Linked DNA regions of Homo sapiens: region 1 is linked to region 2. The links come from fine-mapping of genetic effects on gene expression. A gene starts in region 2. The other region holds a variant in brackets. All regions are shown on one strand. Distances are from middle to middle.

The links. PIP is the estimated chance that this variant, and not a neighbour inherited with it, causes the effect.
Region 1: its variant is the best candidate, but not a certain one, in a credible set for the expression of TNFSF10 in CD4 T cells (BLUEPRINT, PIP 0.71).

Annotation. Positions count from the first base shown.
Region 1 is chr3:172,578,890-172,581,807 of GRCh38, reverse strand. The region is part of intron 2 of LINC02068 (long intergenic non-protein coding RNA 2068); the gene reads left to right. Among named protein-coding and RNA genes, the nearest start is that of LINC02068, 15 kb to the left of the region's middle. The variant G/C (reference allele first, on the strand shown) is at 1,363.
Region 2 is chr3:172,522,422-172,525,260 of GRCh38, reverse strand. TNFSF10 (TNF superfamily member 10) reads left to right here and starts at 1,831. Exons shown (of 5, transcript NM_003810.4): 1 at 1,831-2,008. The coding sequence starts at 1,877. It also overlaps the pseudogene TBPL1P1. RefSeq lists an enhancer at 1,850-1,899.

The DNA.
Region 1 (2,918 bases), 57 kb before region 2:
GGTATCAGCATCTCTAGACTCACATTCTGCCACTTAAGCTATACTTAGAAACAATAATCTTCTTTCTCAGAAAAATTCAAGCTGCTACCTCGATTGATAAACTGCAGCCACTTGTGCATGGCTTAAACAACTTTAGTCCATTGTTTCCAAAATTATATTTGCATGTCACTGGTGCTCCCTGAGATGATCTGGTAGTAAGCAAACATTTATTATAATACATGCCAGGGGCTAGAGGGGAGGGACGGATAAATAGGCAGAACATGGAGGATATTTAGGGAAGTGAAATTATTCCGATATTATATTGGTGAATGCATGCTGTTTTACATTTGTCACATGTATAATTATGTGTAAATTTTTATGCATAATAAAAAATAAGTAGTGCCTCAAAATTTTTTTTCTTTTGCTTGGGATGAGGCTGAAATAGGAAGGAAAGTAGTATTCATTTTACAGGATTAGGGTGAGTTTCAGATATGGTGATCAGGCATGTTCATGATCATTTTGTACCTTTACGAATCGAATTATCAAACAAGACTTAACCTGTTCCATGTAGTTGAAGTGCTGTACAGGCAGAAAAAATCTAGTCACTGTTGTATACTGAGGGGAAAATCTTAGGTTAAGTCCCTCAAAGATTCTGGAAAAATTTCATATGGTAATTCATAAGGCAATTTTTGAAAGGAAGTCAATATGTCACAAATTGAATGTAACTTTGAAAATCTTTACCCTACTTTGGAAAAAAGTATCATTTTAGTATAACATAAAATGAACTACATGACTGTCCTCTCCATGGTTAAATTCCTTGTCTGCCAACATTATATAACTGACTTTTGTTTCTTCTGATTTGTTTTCATGCAGTTAATTTTCAAGAGGAAGAGCTTCCTTCCTAAATTTGATTCAAATCTATTCCAGGAACAAACAGAAGCTTAAAGTTTCTTTTCACAGTTTCTTTTAAGGCGCCACTTTTGTTTCTCTGTGGTTTCATTATGAGAAGTAACTCAAAGTGGAAGAAGATTGTTGTAATGTATTGCATTTCTATACTTGAGAGAGTTTTTAAGTTCTTCAGATAAGTATGGTATGTGGTTGCAAGGTAATTTTCACTTATTTGCAATAATACAAATTTGTGAATTTCTGTTATTTGTTAGCTACACAGTTTATAGTATTTTGTTACAGCAGGCCCAACAGAATAAGAGAGACAATAAGCAGATTCTGGGAAAATGGCAGAGTAGGAAGAACCAGGAATCTCTCTCCTGACCTACCCAACTAATGCAGTGGCAGAATATGACTTAACTATCTTGGAACTCTGGAGTAATCTAAGGTTCACAATTTCCAGAGGAAGGCTTAGGTTGTGTATTAGTTTGTTCTTAC[G/C]CTGTTATGAAGAAATACCTGAGACTGGATGATTTATGAAGGAAAGAGGTTTAATTGACACACAATTCCACATGGGTGGGGAGGCCTCAGGAAACTTATAATCATGGTAGAAGACAAAGGGGAAGCGAGGACCTTCTTCACATGGTGGCAAGAGAGAGAAGAGTGAAGGAAAAACTTCCAAACACTTATAAAACCATCAGATCTTGCGAGAACTCACTATCATGAGAACAGCATGGGAGAAACTGCCCCCATGATCCAATCACCTCCCTCCCTTGACATGTGATGATTACAGGTGCTTCCCTCGAGGTGTGGGGATTACAGTTTGAGATGAGATTTGGTGGGGACACAGAGCCAAACCATATCATTCCACCTCTGGCCCCTCCCAAATCTCATGTCTTTTCACATTTCAAAACCGATCATGCCTTCCCAACAGTCCCTCAAAGTCTTAACTCATTTCAGCATTAACTCAAAAGTCCACAGTCCAAAGTCTCATCTGAGACAAGGCAAGTCTCTTCCACCTATAAGCCTGTAAAATTGAAAGCAAGTTAGTTACTTCCTAAATACAATGGGAGGACAGGCCTTGGGTAAATGCTCCCATTCCAAATGGGAGAAATTAACCAAAACAAAGGGGCGACAGGCCCCATGCAAGTCTGAAATCCAGCAAGGCAGTCCTTAAATCTTAAAGCTCCAAAATGATCTTTTTTGACTCCATGTCTCACACCCAGGACACACTGATGCAAAGAGTGGGCTCCCATGGCCTTGAGTAGCTTCTTCACAGGCTGGCATTGAGTGCCTATGGCTTTTTTAGGTGCACGGTGCAAGAAGGAGGTGAATCTACCATTCTTGGGTCTGGAGAACAGTGACCCTCTTCTCACAGCTCCCCTAGGCAGTGCCCCAGTGGGGACTCTGTGTGGGGGCTCCTACCCCATATTTCCCTTCCACACTGCCCTAGCAGAGGTTTTCCATGAGGGCTCTGCCCCTGTAGCAGACCTCTGCCTGGCCATCCAGGCATTTTTATACCTCCTTTGAAATCTAGGCAGACATTCCCAAACCTCAATTCTTGACTACCATGTACCCACAGGCCTAACACTACAGGGAAGCTGCCAAGGTCTGGGGCTTGTACCCTCTGAAGCCACAGCCTGAGCTGTACATTGGCTCCTTTTAGCTATGGCTGGAGCTAAAGTGGCTGGGATGCATCATACCAAGTCCCAAAGCTGCACACAGCAGTGGGGGCCTGGGCCTGGCCCAATAAATCATTTTTAACCTCCTAGGCCTCCAGGCCTGTGATGGGAGGAGCTGCCGCCAAGATCTCTGACAGGCTCTGGAGATATTTTCCCCATTGTCTTTGTGATTAACATTGGGATCCTCATTACTTATGCTAATTTTTGCAGCCAGTTTGAATTTCTCCCCAGAAAATGGGTTTTTCTTTTCTACTGCATGGTCAGGCTGCAATTTTTCCAAACTTTTATGCTCTGCTTCCCTTTTAAACGTAAGTTCCAATTTCAGGTCATCTCTCTCAAGTTCAAAGTTCCACAGAAATCTAGGGCAGGGGCAAA
Region 2 (2,839 bases):
CCCTGTGTTTCTCTGCCATCTCTCGTTTCTTGTTTCTGCCCTGCCCGGCTGTGTGTCTTGTGCATTACGGTTATCCTACTCATCTTTCACCTGATTTAAAAAACTCATTCAGTCTAGGACTTAGAGTGTAAGTGTGTTCAAATAGTGTTAGGTTCACATAATGTCTAAAACTTTTAGTAGGAAAAATGCTACCTTGCCAATTTGTCTGTGTCTGAAAGGAATTTGCATTTAAAAATTTGGCAATTTGACAGAGGCAAATTTAAAATTTGAAAATATTTTCTTAAATATAGACTCATTTACAGATAGAAGGCAAGGGCAGGAAGTGATGGTGACCAGCGGTGCCTGAATGAACTCAGGAATGTAACTGTAGATCTAGGGTCCCAAACTTTAGGTTTCAAAGGATCTCTTGGAGTACTTGCTGAAAAATGTAGGTTCCTAAGTCCACTGCCAGAAACTCTGACTCAGTGGGTCAAGAATGGAATAACTAAACAATGGCCCCATGCAGTGGTTCATGCCTGTAATCCCAGCACGTTGGGAGGTTGAAGCAAGAGGATCACTTGAGGTCAGGAGTTCGAGACCAGCCTGGCCTACATGGTAAAACCCCATCTCTACTAAAAATACAAAAAAATTAGCTGGGCATGGTGGCATGCACCTGTAATCCCAGCTACTTGGGAGGCTGAGGCAGGAGAATTGCTTGAATCTGGGAGGTGGAGGTTGTAGTGGGCCGAGATTGTGCCATTGCACCACTGCACTCCAGCCTGGGCGATAAAGTGAGATTCTGTCAAAAAAATAAATAAATACATGAAAGAGAGAAAGAAAGAAAGAAAGAAAGAAAGAAAGAAAGAAAGAAAGAAAGAAAGAAAGAAGGAAAGAAGGAAAGAATAGAAAAGAAAAGAAAGAAAGAAAGAAAGGAAGAAAAGGAAAGAAAGAAATGCTGAATAAGATATAGAGACAACATACAGCTGGGCCAGCTTATGACATCTGATAGTGGGGAGATTTGGGGCTGGGTCCTGAATCTGAGGGTAATTAACTCCCTGTAACTTCTTTTCCTAATCTGTAAAAGGATAGTGACAGCGAGACATTGTGATGGGGTTAATATTTTGGAAAACATCCACATGTTTTTTTCCTTTGCCTTTCTGAGTGTGTCAACTACTTCCTACCTGTCCAGCCTAACACACAGGCATGTTGTCTTGGTAGGGATGGAGATCTGAGAAGGAGATTAGAATTTGTGTCTGAAGGTTTGCAAAGAGGAAGAAGTCGTCAATATTTAGATTCTGACATTCAAGATGGAATTATGTAGCAAGACCATTGCTATGAGACAGTATTTCTATTTTCCTTTATCCACTCCCACCCTGCCCTCTTCCCACCCTCACAGTAGCATGAGAAAAACCACATATGGAAGTTTCAGGTCATAAAAATTATCTTATAATTTAGAAAACAGGCCTTGTGCCTATGACAGCCAGGCCATGAGGCTTAGAGCTCTGTGGTAGAATGAGGATATGTTAGGGAAAAGCAAAGAAAATCCCTCCCCTCTTTGGCTGAGGACATTATCAAAAGGAGAGCAAGAAAGAGAAGAGAGAAATGGGCTTGAGGTGAGTGCAGATAAGGGGTGCATGGATCCTGAGGGCAAGGAGAGGAGCTTCTTTCAGTTTCCCTCCTTTCCAACGACTACTTTGAGACAAGAGCTGTCCCTGGGCAGTAGGAAAGGGGAGGGACAGTTGCAGGTTCAATAGATGTGGGTGGGGCCAAGGCCACAGAACCCAGAAAAACAACTCATTCGCTTTCATTTCCTCACTGACTATAAAAGAATAGAGAAGGAAGGGCTTCAGTGACCGGCTGCCTGGCTGACTTACAGCAGTCAGACTCTGACAGGATCATGGCTATGATGGAGGTCCAGGGGGGACCCAGCCTGGGACAGACCTGCGTGCTGATCGTGATCTTCACAGTGCTCCTGCAGTCTCTCTGTGTGGCTGTAACTTACGTGTACTTTACCAACGAGCTGAAGCAGGTCAGTGCAGTGCAGTGCACTCAGTCTTCGAGGCGCTTAGCAAATGTCTGGTTACCTGCTTCTTTGCATGTCAGCTTGCCCCTCTCTGAAGACTTTCCTGCTTCCTTTCTCTGTGGGTACACTCTAACTGCTAAATCACATAACAACTGAGGTCTTTGCAAAACTGTAAGTTCAAGAAATTGTGTAAACTAAGTGCAGTTACACAACTGGCTTCACTAGTTACTAGCAGATGTGGGCAACAAAACTCCTGAGGGATTTTTTGTTTTTAAAAGTATGTGTATTTTATAATATCAGCCATTGCAACTCTTCATGAAAGCTTTCTGCTAAATGCTTTGTAGTTCTTTTGTTTTCCTTTTCCAAACTTTTATTTGTGCACATTCAATTGAAAAAGATAATTTTTACAGGTTCTTTGGTGCCCATTTTCAGCATACAAAAATGTAAAAGACTATTCACAGATAAAACACATTAGCTCAAAATGGAAAAAAATAACAATGACAACAATAAAACAACCTAAGGTAGTGCACACTGTGACAGCTCTGCTTATGGGGACATGAGAATTCCTGCGAAAATAAATAGAATGTCCTTTTGTAAAAGCAGCAATGACATGTCTTGTAAACTTCCTTTTTTATATTATAACAAGGTTTGGAATAAAATCCAAAGGGACTGGAGCTTACACTGTAGCCATGAATAAATAAAAGAGTCTATTTCCTCAATTACCGTTGGTTCAGTTTTCCTTTTGAGTCCAATGTGCAGCAGGTTTTAAAAGGTGCACAGTAAGAGATTCTAACCAATTAAGTGGTGAATGATAAAATTTCTTTCCTGCTTTCAAAC